Linked DNA regions of Homo sapiens. The protein of the gene in region 4 purifies or fractionates together with the protein of the main gene of each other region. This does not show direct contact. Each region holds a gene or a part of one and is shown on either strand. Other genes may lie near its edges.

Region 1 (3,908 bases), on a different chromosome or scaffold from region 4:
TCAGTTCTGACTGTCCCCCAGGCTCTAACATCTCCACCCCAGCATCCTCTTCGGGGCACTGAGCACTGCTGGTCACCCAACAGACATGGAACTGCCTCACTCCAAGGCAGATCATCCCTCCATGGGCAGCTCTGGACAGCTCTGACTACAGGAAAGTTAGCCAGTCCTTCCTCAAAGGTAGTGTGCCATGACCAGAAGAATATGATTAGCCTACTCCTCTGCATAGGGTTAAAATAAAATACCTTATGCCCCCACCTAAGCTTCCACCTGCTCATCCTGGTTTGGGGCCCTGCATGTTTCTCCACAAGACACACGTGTGCTCCTTTTAAAATCGTCTCCTCTTTTCTCTGAATTACGGGAGGACCAAGATACACGAGGTCTCTTGCTACATGATTTCACTCGGGAATTCTTAGAGGTAGGCTCCACCAGATACGATGACCAGGACCTTGAGGATTTTAAAACTCATTTAGCATTGCAGCCCTCAAAGCTGACGGGAAAATTATAATTCATCTAGCAAATGTTCCTGTAGTGTTTTGGGGTGCCATTCATTTAATGGAGGGTGGGTGTGTTGAACATCCTGCCCTCACCCCTTCAGACCCGCTCCTTCTCCACCGGCCCCCATGTTCCAGGAGGCTGTCCCACACGGGCTCCCTCAATGGGCTCAGCTCCCTTGCCAGTGGCTTCGAGTTGAAGGGGGCTGGGTTTGCCTAATAGGAGGCACCAGAATGATTCAAAGACGGGAGGAAAGGGAGTCAGGTATTTATTCTCCCTCCCATGTCCCCGCCGTTGCCATGGGTTGGCTCTGAGACCCTCCAGTGAGGGCCACAGCTCCTAAGAGACAGCTCCCTCTGCCAGTCTCCAGTTCTCACCCCCGCAGGCTCCCTTCAAGCCTAGGGTGGTCACAGCCCCCTCTGAGTCGCCAGCCCTAGGGTGTGACACCGGCCTTTGTTAGTTCTGCAGAACTCTGCCGGCATGTCCGTAGTCTTAAAAAACTCTCCTTAAATTAAGTTGGAGTGTGTTCTGTTCCCTGCCAGGAACTCTACTGGAAAAAGCATTCTAGAGAGATGACAAGGCAGTAGGTAAAGGAGGTGGGACCTCCCAGCCCTGCATGGTGGAAATGTAGGAGTGGGGCTGGATTGGCGTCGAGAATGGACGAGCTTTCCATATTAAGCCAAGGGGTATGAAATCGCTGGTTCTCTATGTAGGTCTCCGTAGCCCCACGTTCCCATCCTAACGCATCTCTCCTCTCTTCCAGAAAGCTCCTGCTGCTTCTGTACCCCGCCTGTCCCTCCCAGCTGCGCAGGGCCCCTTCGTGGGATCATCAGCCCGAAGACAGGGATGGAGAGGCCTCTGTGCTCCCACCTCTGCAGCTGCCTGGCTATGCTGGCCCTCCTGTCCCCCCTGAGCCTGGCACAGTATGACAGCTGGCCCCATTACCCCGAGTACTTCCAGCAACCGGCTCCTGAGTATCACCAGCCCCAGGCCCCCGCCAACGTGGCCAAGATTCAGCTGCGCCTGGCTGGGCAGAAGAGGAAGCACAGCGAGGGCCGGGTGGAGGTGTACTATGATGGCCAGTGGGGCACCGTGTGCGATGACGACTTCTCCATCCACGCTGCCCACGTCGTCTGCCGGGAGCTGGGCTACGTGGAGGCCAAGTCCTGGACTGCCAGCTCCTCCTACGGCAAGGGAGAAGGTAAACGCTCTGTGCTTTGGATCTGAGTGCTGTCACCTGGCAAGGCCCGGAGTGGCCTTCCCTGAGGTCAGCCTGGGAGAGGAGGCTGCACGCACTGCGAAGTGTAAATTCTTGGTGATGCCCATCCAGGGACTGGCATCCTTCTGTGCCCACTCAGGCTGCACCCTGCAGGAAGGCGGGGTCGGGGGGCTTGAGGAGGGGCACAGTAAGTGACCAACCATACTGATTTGCCCAAGACTTTCCTGGCTTTAGCACAGAAAGTCTCACATCCTGGGAAAACCTCAGGAAAACCAGGACAGTTGGTGACCCCAGGTAGGGGGTGAAATCGGCCTGTGCTCCTCTCTCCGCCCCATATGCCCTGCCTGGGGGCTGCGTCAGCCCAGAGGAAGTTGCGCTTTACTCCAAATCGTTCCCTGTTAGGAAAGCCTCTTGCTCTTCCTCACAATGGCTCCCACATGCTGGAGCTCCCTGACGCCCCCCACCTTCCTGGCATGTGGAGTTCATCGTTTTCACACTAACCTGCTATTGTGGGCTTGGTCACAATAGGCACACAGATGCTTTGGGTTTTTCACCGTTGGTTAGCCTATTCTTTCCTCCCTTGTGAGGTTCAAATTTATTAGTTTATTTTTAAAAATTGTTTTAAGAGCTGGCCAGGCGCAGTGGCTCATACCTGTAATCCCAGCACTTTGGGAGACGGAGGCGGGATGATCACTTGAGGTCAGGAGTTCGAGACCAGCCTGGCCAACATGGGGAAACCCCATCTCTACTAAAAATACAAAAATTAGCCGGGCATGGTGGCGAGTGTCTGTAGTCCCAGCTACTCAGGAGGCTAAGGCACAAAAATCGCTTGAACCCGGGAGGCGGAGGCTGCAGTGAGCCGTGATCGCGCCACTGCACTCCAGCCTGGGTGACAGAGCGAGACTCCATCTCAAAAAAACAAAAAACAAAACAAAAACCCAAAAAATTGCTTTAACAGCTTTGAGGCAGGACAAAGTTTGAAGCCCTGAACCTAGAGCTCAGTCTGTACTGACCTCTGACACCACACTTTGTAGGAAGACGCATGTCCTCTCCAGCCTCATTTTCCCCATCTGGAAGTTGGGCTAAGAACCCCTGAAACCCTGACAGTGTATGTTCCCAAATAGGAAAGAGATAAGGGTGGAGGGAATTGTTTCTTTTTAAACATTTTTCCAGGAGCTAAGAGTTTCCTATCTCTGGGTCAGCCAGGCAAAGGAAGCTCCCACACCCTCCCGCCCGGCTGAGCTGCAGCCCAGACCTCAGCACAAGTCTGGCTACTGGACTAAAGCAGAGCTGCCTATACTCCTGTCCTGGACTAAAGGGCTAATGCCATGCTGACTGCGTAAGAATCGCCCAAGGGAGCTTAAAAGTACAGAATAGCGCAGACCTCAACCCACCATAATCTAGTTTAAAAGGTCTGGGCTGGAGCCCAGGACTCTGTCTCTTTTGGAAGTCTGCAAAGTGACAGGTTTGGGAGTCATTGAAATTGATAACTGTTATCCTCCCTTCCAACTTTTCTGTTATTCTAGAAATTATAGGAGAAAGGAAGTCCCATCTCATACACATCTCACCTCCATGCAATTGAAAATTTCCTTTTGGGGTAACTGGATCAGGAGACAGCACAGAGTCAAATGTTCTCTGCAGCTTGCTCTGGGCGATGAGAGCCACAGCAGTGAAGTTAGCAAATGCTGGGCTTTAGAACCCACTTCCTGTCTTCTTTAAACAAACGTCCGATACTTCCACATCTCTGTTTATCCGGCTGGCTGAGCGATCCAGGGGTAACCTCAGATTCATGTTTTCCATTCCAGGCTTTCCAACGCTCATTATTTTATAACAAATGCTTTCCAGTGACTGGGTATTTTTCCAGTGACAACTTAATTTTATTTCAACCTCAATTTAAAACACCTGTTGTCAGACAAGGGGGTTGTGGTTTTTCCCTATCAGGAGCAGGCACGGGGTAGTAGGAGACAGGTTTTTACCCAGGTGGGACTTTGCCATCCAAGCGTGGTGAAGAGTGAAAAGTTCCAAGGAGTGGAGGGAATATGAAAGGGAAGGATTAAACTCATGGTCCAAGGAGACTGTGCTGGGTAAGGAGGGTTGTAATAAGTGGAGAAGTTGAAGGATTGTGCATAGCTGCTGTGATCACTGGATTGCGAGTCTCTGTTCAGATGGAGATACAAGAAGTTTACTAAAAGATGAA
Region 2 (3,908 bases), on a different chromosome or scaffold from region 4:
TGGAGCTTTTCCCACTTACGAGTAGTTTGTCATATTTCCCTCTAACCCAGATTTGTCCTTAAAGAGTGGAGCTGAGTGAGATGTGGTCCAGGCTGGGGACCTCCACAGGGTCTACTCTCTATGTTTATCCCTCAACAAAAAGGTCTGATCTTGCTTTGGCATCCTTGATAGCATTCTAGAAACACAGTAGAATATTTCTATTATGATATACTGACAAAACCAGTGGGGTCAGGCTCCAACTGATATTTTAGATTTGAAAATTCAGTTGAAGGCTGTGTGCAGTGACTCATACCTGTAATCAATCCCAGCACTTTGGGAGGGCAAGGCGGGTGGATCACGAGGTCAGGAGATCAAGGCCATCCTGGCCAACATGGTGAAACCCCGTCTCTACTAAAACTACAAAAATTAGCTGGGCGTAGTTATGCGTGTCTGTAATCTCCACTACTTGGGAGGCTGAGGCAGGAGAATCGCTTGAACCTGGGAGTCAGAGGTTGCAGTGAGCTGAGATTGTGCCACTGCACTCCAGCCTGGCAACAGAGCGAGACTCTGTCTGGGGAAAAAAAAATCACTTGAACTATTTTTTATTTGTATGAGCAGGAGGAGTTCTGGGTAGGCATTAATTCTGTGCTACCATAGTTGGTCCTCTCAACAATCCTAAAAAAAAGACATGACTATCCCATTTTTGCTGTGAGCAACTGAGGCACAGAGGCTGTTCTGCCTGTCCTGTGCTGCTGCTTTTGCTCTGTAGAAAACTGCGGAGTGAAACACCACCATCGAGTACAGAAGGTTGAGTTTCCAGAACGACCATGATGTAGCTAAACCTGGCTCTCTCAGCTTGCTCCTCCCAGAGATTGAGCCTCCTGAACTTGGCACAGGAAGTCCAAATCTCTGAAGAGTCAAGTGTAAATAAATTATGGCCTGTGAGATGTGTTCAGTTTTGTTGTGTGCAACTCATCTGGGGCATGTGATTCCTCATCCTAACCCCAGCCCAGTGCTGATTGCCTTTGCGATCTTAGTAAGTTCCAGAGCCTCTGTGCAGCAGATGTTCCGCCAGCCACACAGGGCAGCTGTGATCCTGCGGAGTTGGCTTGCTGGCCTTATTCTGTCAACTGCCCATCCTGGTAGATCACAACCCTTGGGTCAGGCACATAAGGAGTTGGAAAGGAGCGTAAAGGCTTTGAAACTGAGAAACTGAGATCCTTGCATTGCTAACACCACATTTAAGACAAGCAGCTCTATTCCAGAGTGATGGCAGTTTGCCTTTTTGTCTATTGATGGAAAATTCCATCAGCACATCCCCGTGTCATCATCATTCGGGGATGCTCTTGCAGGGCAGGAAAGAGCACATAGGAGGAACTGCAGGAGGGCCCATTTGTCTTTGAACTTCAGAAGTGAGGAGGTGTTTATGTCTCAGCTGGGCGTGTTTAGGTTTTGGCAACGTGGATGGGTTAGTAATGCCGTGCTTTCTCCTTTTGTTGCAGCTGGTCCTTCGGGGTGTTAATGTGGGAGATCTTCACTTTAGGGGGCTCGCCCTACCCAGGGATTCCCGTGGAGGAACTTTTTAAGCTGCTGAAGGAAGGACACAGAATGGATAAGCCAGCCAACTGCACCAACGAACTGTAAGGGCTGTTGTCTTTCCTGCCGGTGCCCCAGTGGACTTGCCACACCAGTAATACCTCTCCTGATGTATCTCGTTTTTGAAGGCCCCTGGTTTCCTAAACATGCTCTAAGAAGAATGGCTGAAGCTCTCTGGGCTCAATCCAGAGCTGGGATACATAGCGACACCGACAACCATTACTTGTCTGAGAGAAAGAACATTATTCTGAGTATGGAGAGGGCTTTGGATCAGAGGGTGTCTGGCTGCCTGGCTGAGGGCTCCTGACTTTGCAGAGCCAGCAGGAGTGGTCTTCCTGGGCCACTGTGCTGCACCTTCTGCGGTCTCCCGTGGAGTGACAGGAAGACCCACGGGTCAGGAAACAAGCTAGAAAGCCGCGGGGCCGCCCTGCAGGGTGTAGGATTAAGGAACCAACACAGCCTTTCCCTGGTGGTTGTGCCTGGCCCCCGCCTGGCCCCATCGTGGCCAGTAGAGAATCGGTGTTTCCAGAACTTCTCGAACCATTGAAAATTGCCATTACAGATTGACGCCAACCACATTTCCTCAGAGCGAAGGAACTCGTGTTTGGTTACCTAGGTCTCACTTGTGTTTTAGTGCAGAGAATTAAACATGTGTCCAGGCGCCCTCCTTACTGTACCAGATCTGCCTGTAAAACCATGAACTGGTTTGTAGCAAAACCTGCCTCACACTTTAAGTGGAGTTATGTTGTGTTTGTGACGTGTGCCTGGTGCAATAGAATCAGTGCTTTGAAAGGAGTCTCTCTGCCTCCTGCCTCAACCCCTCCAGGATTAACTAAGAAGAGTGATTGTCCCAGAAACTGCGGTCTATTGTGTATCATTTCATGGGGATTTTATATCAGTAATCCCGTGAGTGCTTTTCGGTGTACCGTGGATGTCTGATGAATGGCCACATTTTATAGCATATTATATAAAGGCATTTATTGTGCTCTTTGTCATTCCTATTGTTTTTTTTCTTTTGTAACGTAGAGGATCTGTCGAAACCCAAAATCAAGATAAGACCTGGGAAGCTAAGCCTATCTAAGAGTTAATCAGGAAGTTAGTGTGCAGCCCAGTGGTGGCAGATTAATTCATCAAAAACTTGAAGTTGTAGTTTTCAAATTTTATTTAATTTTTTTTTAACTCAGGAAGCTGTGTCAACTAGAATCATTAAGACCCAAAGCACCGGGCAGATAAATAGTGGAGCTGCTTTGGTGCTGGGCAGGGTGTCAGGGGAGGGAAGACTGGAGACCAGCCCATGGAAATACGCATTTTCCTTCAGCCTCCAAAGCATCTTTAGGGTGTGACGCCATTGTGAGATGTCACTGTGGCCCAGGGTTACCAGGGAAAACACATAGCTGTGTCTTTCTTGATGGCTTCGATGCCTTTCTAACATGTTTTTGTAAGTCAAAGTGCCTTTCGGAGGAACTGGCAGGGAAGCTTTTGGGAAAGTGATTCATGACCCCCTAATCTAGTTGCTTGGAAGGTTCTGATGCATTTTCCTAATTTACACCACGTCCCCATATTGCCTATTAAAACTGACTATAACCACGTACCCAGTGCATATGAAATTAATTCAAGGAAATCCATTTTTCCCAGGTACATGATGATGAGGGACTGTTGGCATGCAGTGCCCTCCCAGAGACCAACGTTCAAGCAGTTGGTAGAAGACTTGGATCGAATTCTCACTCTCACAACCAATGAGGTAAGAACTTCCTTCTAGAAGCCCCTTGTCCTTGGTTGTCTTGTGAGACATGCGTAGTGTTTTACACACACACTCCCCTGTTGGCTGTTGGTTGGAGTCTGTGGTCTTGTTTATTCTTTTTCCATAGGGTCAGATAGTTCAACTATGGGTTCCTCTCAAATCATGATTTTTCTCAGAACTTCATTTTGTGAGTTCTGACTCATGAAACCAAAGACAGAGGGACATCCCCGAGGCTGCCTTCAGTGTAGCTGCTGGTGGAGCAGTCCGGGGTATGTGGGAGAGTGGGAAAGGGGAAGCAGTATTCACTTGCATTTTGGTGTGCATGGGAAAAAGCTTGGATTCCTGTGCAAGTTTGATTCTGTGCTTTGGTCATTAGTGGGTAAACTGATAATGTTCGTCATCATTTGCTTGATGGAATACAATGAAGTTTTCTAACACCAGCTTCTGTTACCACAGTACTATCCTATGTGATCCTGTTGGTAATGCTATATGCCTTGCAGCCTCTTTCTAGGTGTATATAAACATACACTGTTTTCTACAATGAGCAACTTACATGATTTTTACATAAAAACATGTACCTTTTGTTAAAATA
Region 3 (3,908 bases), on a different chromosome or scaffold from region 4:
TGCATTATTGTTAATCTTTTGTTACTTCAAACCTCATCTGTGTTGAAGTGCTAGATATATCAAATTGCATGTAGTTTTTTTTTTTTTTTTTTTTTTTTTCATTTTTTCCCTTTGACAATACAAGATGAGACATGCAGGTTACTGTGCTGCTGATTTTTCTGTGCCATATTCTAACCTACATCAGCTTTAAAGTCAAATAAACAAACAAAAGTGACTAGCAACCATAGACCCTACAATGTTGCTTCTAATCCATACCATGGGTTTTGCTTCAGGCTTACCTGTAGGTGTGTTGTATATAATTTCTAGATAAGGCCCCAGTGTAGTTTGTCCACAAATACCTAAAAAATACCTACCTTTTGAAAAGGCTCCTATGGATGCTTTAAGGCAGTGTTTCTCAACCAGAGACAAGCTTGCCACCCACTGAATATTTGTCAGTGTCCAAAAATGTTTTTGGTTGTCATGACTGGAGGTGGGAGGAGTGTGCTATTGACATCTAGTGGCTAGAGGGCAGGTATGCTGCTAAATATCCTAACACACAGGACGGCCCCTCTGCAACAAAGAACTACCTGACCCAAAATGTCAGTTGTGCCAAGGTTGAGACACCCTGCTGTAGGGGATAGAAAGAAGTGTAAGAAATGGTTTCAAACTCAAGAACAATGATTAGAGAGATGGATGGATGGATAGATAGGTACATAATAAATAGATAAGTAAGCATAATAAAATATTAAATATGGACTCTAGATGATAGATATTTGGGTATTCACTGTAAAATTTAACTGTGTGTGTTCGAAAATATAGTAAAATAGTGGAGAAAAAAATCAAAGGCTGATTTTGGAGTTTCAGAGACACATACTGATTCAAAGACTAGTAAGATGTTACAACCCTATTCACACCCACCAATGTAGCCATTTTTAGATCTTTTAATTCTTTTTTTTTTGAGACGGAGTTTCACTTTTGTTGCCCAGGCTGGAGTGCAATGGCATGATCTTGGCTCACCGCAACCTCTGCCTCCTGGGTTCAGGTGATTCTCCTGCCTCAGACTCCCGAGTAGCTGGGATTACAGGCATGCACCACCACGCCTGGCTAATTTTTTTGTATTTTTAGTACAGACGGGGTTTCTCCATGTTGGTCAGGCTGGTCTCGAACTTCTGACCTCAAGGGATCTGCCCACCTCAGCCTCCCAAAGTGCTGGGATTACAGGCGTGAGCCACTGCGCCTGGCCATCTTTTAATTCTTAAAGATACCTGAAGTGGTTGGCTTGGTGATGGCCAGTTTCCATAGGCCGCATAATGCTGAGAAGGAAGATTTCAAAGGTCTGTTTTCTTTAGGTTTTTCTGTTGTCCAGTCTTCTTTGGCTTGCATTTCTTTGAATTTCTTCTGTTACTTTATGCTCCAAAGTATTTAGTACATACTGCTCACAGTTTTGATACACGTTTCTTTTTGTTGTTCATAAAATTTCTGTTCAGCCAAATAGAACATGCTTTCCAGTCAGTTCTTCCTGGTAATTTCCAAACTCTTAAAATTTTTCTGGGTTTAGAGTTTTAAAAAATGCGATCAAAATAGTTTATTTTCTGATAAGGTTTATTTGTTTATTTTTGTTTTTAAACAAGGGCTTAAAAAATGGCACCCTTTTATCCTTGGCAAAACTACTTATAGATAGCAAAGCAATGGAGATATAAAGCAAAATTAAGAAGTCAAGAATAGGGAAATTATTAAGTGGACTTGGGATAAGCAGGGTTCTGAAACAGTTAAAATAGAGATGTGTCGTAATTGTTATAAATCTCAATGTACTTACTAAAAAAACAAAAAATCAATCTTCATCTAAACCCCTAGGTGTCCAATCTTTTGGTTTCCCTGGGCCACAGTGGAAGAAAGAATTATCTTGGGCCACACATAAAATACACTAACATTAGCTGATGAGCTTAAAAAAAAAATCGCACACAAAAAAATCTCATAATGTTTTAAGAAAGTTTACAAATTTCTCCTGGGCCGCATTCAAAGCTGTCCTGGGCAGCATGAGGCCTGTGGGCAGAGGGTTGGATAGGCTTGCCCTAGGTGATGTTAATGAAGATAAAGAAGAGGTAGAGAAGGGAAAATAATTTAAAGGTATGCTTAAATGCTAAAGCTTATATTGGTTTTTATTTTATTCTTCACTCTGACAAATTGAGTAAAAAAGGTTAAATAATGGTTTTAAAAATTTAATGGCAACTATGGCTGGGCGCGGTGGCTCACACCTATAATCCCAGCACTTTGGGAGGCTGAGGCGGGTGGATCATGAGGTCAGGAGATCGAGACCATCCTGGCTAACATGGTGAAACCCCATCTCTGCTAAAAAAAAAAAAAAAAAAAAAATGAGCCGGGCGTGGTGGCAGGTGCCTGTAGTCCCAGCTATTCAGGAGGCTGAGGCAGGAGGCGGAGCTTGCAGTGAGCCGAGATTGCGCCACTGCACTCTAGCCTGGGCAACAGAGCAAGACTCCATCTCAAAAAAAAAAAAAAAAATAATGGCAACTATTAGTAAAATTTAAAACCAGTCGTGTATCTTCTGCAACATTGGAGAAGATGGAGCAAGTAAAACAGTTCATAGAGCAAAAGAAGGAAAACAAAGCAACTGTCAAGGAAGCTTAAATCAGAAAGTACATGTATAAAGTGATGTAAGTAATAGCAAATTCATTATAATAGGAAATGTAATTTGATTAAACTACCCATTTAAAGACAAGAATACTAAGATTGGTCAGAAATCAAAGTCCAAACAAAAGATCTAACAACATTAATGACATTAGAAAAAATAAAAGAAGGCAAAGATAACATCAGATCAACTCAAACAAAAAGAAACTTGGCATTGTATTATTATCAGATGAGATATGGATCAGAGTAAGAAAGCACTAAGAGGAACAGAAAAAGGTGATTTTATGAATCACAGTGAAGATCATTCACAGAGTAAAATTATATCAAACTATGTATAGTAAAAAAATTGGAAATATTAGAAAATAGAAAAGCATTATGATGAGTTTAACAAACTACTATCTTTAACAAACCAAAGTGCCAAAAAATAAATAAGTTCTGAAGGATCTGAATGAAATAATTGGCAACATCAATTTGATAGCAGTATTTGGGACTTTGTATGACAGAATACTTTCTTGTTAAATGCCTGTGGGGCATTTACAAAAATTGACTAAATATCACTGTGAAGAAAATCAAAATAAAATTGCCCAAAGCACCTACATTTTCTACTCCAATGAAACAGAACTAGAAATTAATAGAAAGTAGTTGTCGAAATTGGAATTCTTTTTAAAAAGCGAACTACTACATATCTTGGGTTTAAAAGGAAGCAAAAACTGTAAATATAGGTTATTTATACCTTAATGGTGATCATTTACAGTTAAACTTTCTGAATATGTCAAAAACTGAATTCAGAGGGAAAATAATAGACTAAAGCCTTTTATTTTAGACAAGAAAGAGGGAAAATAATGGACTACTTGAGTCCAGAAATTTCAAAAACAAGCAATAAGCGTGAGAAATCAGGAAAATAAACTAATAAAGATAAAAGCAGGAAATAAAGAGTTAGAAAATGGGAACACAGAAGAGTTTGAAAGTATTCTGAGAGCATTCTTTGAAAATACCTATAGAAGAGACCTCTGGTTTAGGTCTCCCTTGCCAGCTCTTTTTTTTTTTTTTACTTAGCATCTCTCCCATAGGAATTTTGGTCTCATAAGACTCTTCCTTTTCTTCTCCTGTATTCCCTTCCTAAGGAGTGCCGTTTATGCTTCTGGTTTTAATTGCTGATCTGTAAGCTGTGTTGCCTCCCAGATCTGTATCTCCATTCAGGTTTGTCCTCACAACTCAAGGCCTCTCCATGTGTCTTCTTGACGTTTTTATGTGGCTGTCTTGAAGGCATCTCAAATCTTTTT
Region 4 (3,908 bases):
CCCTCTGTGTCCCTTCCAGGGAGCAGAACCATGTGTACCTGGGTGACAAGAATGCCCTGAACCTCACTTTCCATGCCCAGAATGTGGGTGAGGGTGGCGCCTATGAGGCTGAGCTTCGGGTCACCGCCCCTCCAGAGGCTGAGTACTCAGGACTCGTCAGACACCCAGGGGTGAGATGAGACTCTCGAGTGGGATTTGGGAGGATACCCCTCTAGAGGGGACACCAAAACCTGACCAGTGCCCACCCCATCTCCAGAACTTCTCCAGCCTGAGCTGTGACTACTTTGCCGTGAACCAGAGCCGCCTGCTGGTGTGTGACCTGGGCAACCCCATGAAGGCAGGAGCCAGTGTAAGTTTGGGATGAAAGAGGATGGGACAGAGGGAGAGCAGACCTGAGGGCGGTAACCAGCCAGCCGAGAGCACAGCTGTGAGGTGCGGAGGGAGGGTGAAATACACAGTCTAACTGCCCTCTTTTCCTCTTTTTCTGTCCCCAGCTGTGGGGTGGCCTTCGGTTTACAGTCCCTCATCTCCGGGACACTAAGAAAACCATCCAGTTTGACTTCCAGATCCTCAGGTAGGGAGTGAGTGTGTCTAGGCTGGGGCTGAGCTGGGGACGGAAGGGAGGGCTGGGCGCCATTCTCACTGGCTGCACTCCAGCACCTCAGTCTTGCCTCCATCCCACAGCAAGAATCTCAACAACTCGCAAAGCGACGTGGTTTCCTTTCGGCTCTCCGTGGAGGCTCAGGCCCAGGTCACCCTGAACGGGTCAGTGCCAGGCAAAATGGGGTCTTTCTGAGAGGGGACACAGACTTCTAGGGAAGGATGCATATGGGGTTCCTTCCACCCTCCTCTAAACCACCCTCCTCCTTAGTGTCTCCAAGCCTGAGGCAGTGCTATTCCCAGTAAGCGACTGGCATCCCCGAGACCAGCCTCAGAAGGAGGAGGACCTGGGACCTGCTGTCCACCATGTCTATGAGGTAAGGGGGGAAGGGGCAGGGCCAGAATGAATGATGGGAAAGGAGGAGCTAATATGAGTGACAGATGGCTGGAACCCATGTGAGGGACTGAGAGAAAGAGAGGAGGGAGGAGTAAGTGATATGCAAAGGCATGAGGCAGAGTCCTGTGAGAAACAGCCAGAGGAGAGACAGGCCAATTGAGTGGCTTGGAAAGAAAGATGGAGCCCCCTCCAAAAGTGTTGGCTAGAGAGGATTTCACCTCTGCCCATTGCTTCCCTGCTTCATCTCTGAGATAGGAGCCTGACAGCAGGGTATAGTGGAGCCATGGTGATCCAGGGTCTCAATGGGGCAGAAGCATTCCCTTCCTTCTCATGATGATTGTGCTCTTCCCTCCTCAGCTCATCAACCAAGGCCCCAGCTCCATTAGCCAGGGTGTGCTGGAACTCAGCTGTCCCCAGGCTCTGGAAGGTCAGCAGCTCCTATATGTGACCAGAGTTACGGGACTCAACTGCACCACCAATCACCCCATTAACCCAAAGGGCCTGGAGGTGAGATCCTGAACACTGGCATGGGGAAGAGGAGCAGATTCAGAGGACCAAGGCTGAGGGGTTGGGGAAGGTTGCTGGGGGCCTGCAAGAGGCAATGAGGATGTGCCTATAGCTAGGGTTGAGGGTCACAAGGCCCAAAGTTACCTCAAAATCCTCTGGAGGAAAAAGGACTTTCATCCACTGTGTTTCTTTCTGCCTGAACTATCCCTTCTTTGTTTCCCGGCATACCCCTAGGGCCCAGTTATGTGCCACCTCCTCTAGGAAGCCTTCTTCAAACCTTTTCCTCTGGGCCCGAATGCCTGTTTTATAGTTCATTTACTCATTAACATCTAATTAAATAAGTGACTGTACTGAACACTGTTAGGCCCAGGAAATATTGCACCAAACAGAACTGACAAGGTCTCCACGTTCATGGAACTTACATTCTAGTGAAGGGTGATAGACATAGAAAAGAAAAAGAGAAGGAGAAAAATTAACAGGGATTGAAAGGTGATGAAGTGAAGAGTTAATAAGCTGTAGGGACACTATTTAAATTGGATCATAGAAAAACCTCTTGAAGACGTCACAGCTGAACTGAGGCCTGAAAGATAAGGTTGAACCTGTCTATAAGACTCAGGGATGAGCATTCCAAACCAAGGGAACATCCAGTGCAAAAACAGGAACACAGACCTAATTATTTACTTAAGCATCTCCTCCAGTGTGATCTCCAAGAACCAAGTTTTCCTCATTTCCATATTTTAACCCTGAGCTCAGTGCCTTGCGCATAGGAGGTGGACAGTTGGATGAATCAATAAAGAGATAGATGAAAGAATAGGTTGAAGCTGCTCTGGAACCCAGGTGCAAGCTGACTTAGAAGCTGTAATGAGATGGGAAAGGGGCCCAACACTTTCTTTTATAGTTGGATCCCGAGGGTTCCCTGCACCACCAGCAAAAACGGGAAGCTCCAAGCCGCAGCTCTGCTTCCTCGGGACCTCAGATCCTGGTAAGTCAGGCAGGGAATGAGGTGTGGACCAAAGTGTTGAGTACTCTGGGGTTCTCAGGGCCATCACAAGGGCAGAACACCAGGTTCAAGCTTCTTTCTTCCTAGAAATGCCCGGAGGCTGAGTGTTTCAGGCTGCGCTGTGAGCTCGGGCCCCTGCACCAACAAGAGAGCCAAAGTCTGCAGTTGCATTTCCGAGTCTGGGCCAAGACTTTCTTGCAGGTGAGGGAGCCTTACCTCAGCCCTGACCCCTGACCTTTGGGCCTGCTTAGACTGACCCACCCCTTTCTCCACTGCAGTAGCCACCTCTCCTTTGGTGAATGGGACCCAGCACTCCAGCTCCCCTTCCTTGCCCTTGTCTAGACCAGGCTGTATGTCCTTGGCGCCATCTAGTGGCCACAGTGGGAGCAGCAGCTTCCCTTTCCTGGCCCATTCAGAGGAGGGAGGGCTGGAGGGAGACCAGTGTGCAAAGAATGATAGAAAAACAGTAAGATGGAAGATGAATCCATAGTGGAGAGGTAAACACATGTAGGAATAGTAAAGAGCAGTCACTTCTTGAGCACACACTGCAGGCTAGGCACTGTCCTGGTGTCAAAGCACATTAATAATTTTAAAAAAATTTTTATTGAACACGTAGTCATCTAATTATATATTATCAAGTTACAATTATTCAGTTACACATTTATTATCTCATATAAGGAACATCAAGAGAAGCTCACGGGCCAGGCACAGTGGCTCACACCAGTAATCCCAGCACTTTGGGAGGCCAAGGTTGGCGGATCCCTTGAGCCCAGAAGTTTGAGACCAGCCTGGGCAACATGGCAAAACTCCACTTCTACAAAAACAAAACAAAACAAAAATTAGCTGGGCATGATGGCACATGCCTGTAGTCTCAGCTACTTGGGAGGCTGAGGCAGGAGGATTGCTTGAGCCCAGGAGGTGGAGGTTGCAGTGACCTAAGCCCACACCACTGCACTCCAGCCTGGGGGACAGAGTGAGACCTAGTCTCAAAAAAAAAAAAAAAAAAAAAAGAGAGAGAGAGAGAGAGAGACTCAGGAAGAATGAGCCCAAAATAGGGAAAGATCACAACCCCAGCCAGACGATGGGGAACCCTATGTCCTCTGGATCCCAAGAGAGGATGTGCTAACCAACTTTCCCCTACCCACAGCGGGAGCACCAGCCATTTAGCCTGCAGTGTGAGGCTGTGTACAAAGCCCTGAAGATGCCCTACCGAATCCTGCCTCGGCAGCTGCCCCAAAAAGAGCGTCAGGTGAGTCTAGGGCCAGAGGACTGGATGAGGGAATACAGGGCTCAGAGTGCTGGAACAGGGCTGGGACTTGGGTGAGGGCTGGCCTTGGTATTGTTAACAACTGTTGAGAATGTACTATGTGCCAAGCACTGTGCAGATGCCAGAGACAGAGTGGT

What was found. Proteins that work in one complex are often made in the same cells at the same time.
Region 1: the proteins of ITGA5 (region 4) and LOXL2 purify together in Homo sapiens (affinity purification with western blotting, with the first as the bait; one study listed by BioGRID). This does not show direct contact.
Region 2: the proteins of ITGA5 (region 4) and FGFR2 purify together in Homo sapiens (affinity purification with western blotting; one study listed by BioGRID). This does not show direct contact.
Region 3: the proteins of ITGA5 (region 4) and TVP23B fractionate together in Homo sapiens (co-fractionation; one large-scale study listed by BioGRID). This does not show direct contact.

What each region holds. Positions count from the first base shown.
Region 1 is NC_000008.11:23,365,782-23,369,689, reverse strand, and holds part of LOXL2 (lysyl oxidase homolog 2 precursor), read left to right. Parts: intron 1-1,255; 5' UTR 1,256-1,338; coding exon 1,339-1,693; intron 1,694-3,564; exon of another isoform or gene 3,565-3,908. UniProt on the Homo sapiens protein: Mediates the post-translational oxidative deamination of lysine residues on target proteins leading to the formation of deaminated lysine (allysine).
Region 2 is NC_000010.11:121,483,106-121,487,013, reverse strand, and holds part of FGFR2 (fibroblast growth factor receptor 2 isoform 1 precursor), read left to right. Parts: intron 1-1,481; coding exon 1,482-1,619; intron 1,620-3,210; coding exon 3,211-3,316; intron 3,317-3,908. UniProt on the Homo sapiens protein: Tyrosine-protein kinase that acts as a cell-surface receptor for fibroblast growth factors and plays an essential role in the regulation of cell proliferation, differentiation, migration and apoptosis, and in the regulation of embryonic development.
Region 3 is NC_000017.11:18,791,114-18,795,021, forward strand, and holds part of TVP23B (Golgi apparatus membrane protein TVP23 homolog B), read left to right. Parts: intron 1-3,908.
Region 4 is NC_000012.12:54,398,442-54,402,349, reverse strand, and holds part of ITGA5 (integrin alpha-5 precursor), read left to right. Parts: intron 1-19; coding exon 20-170; intron 171-256; coding exon 257-349; intron 350-494; coding exon 495-574; intron 575-684; coding exon 685-765; intron 766-871; coding exon 872-977; intron 978-1,354; coding exon 1,355-1,504; intron 1,505-2,402; coding exon 2,403-2,486; intron 2,487-2,591; coding exon 2,592-2,705; intron 2,706-3,651; coding exon 3,652-3,753; intron 3,754-3,908.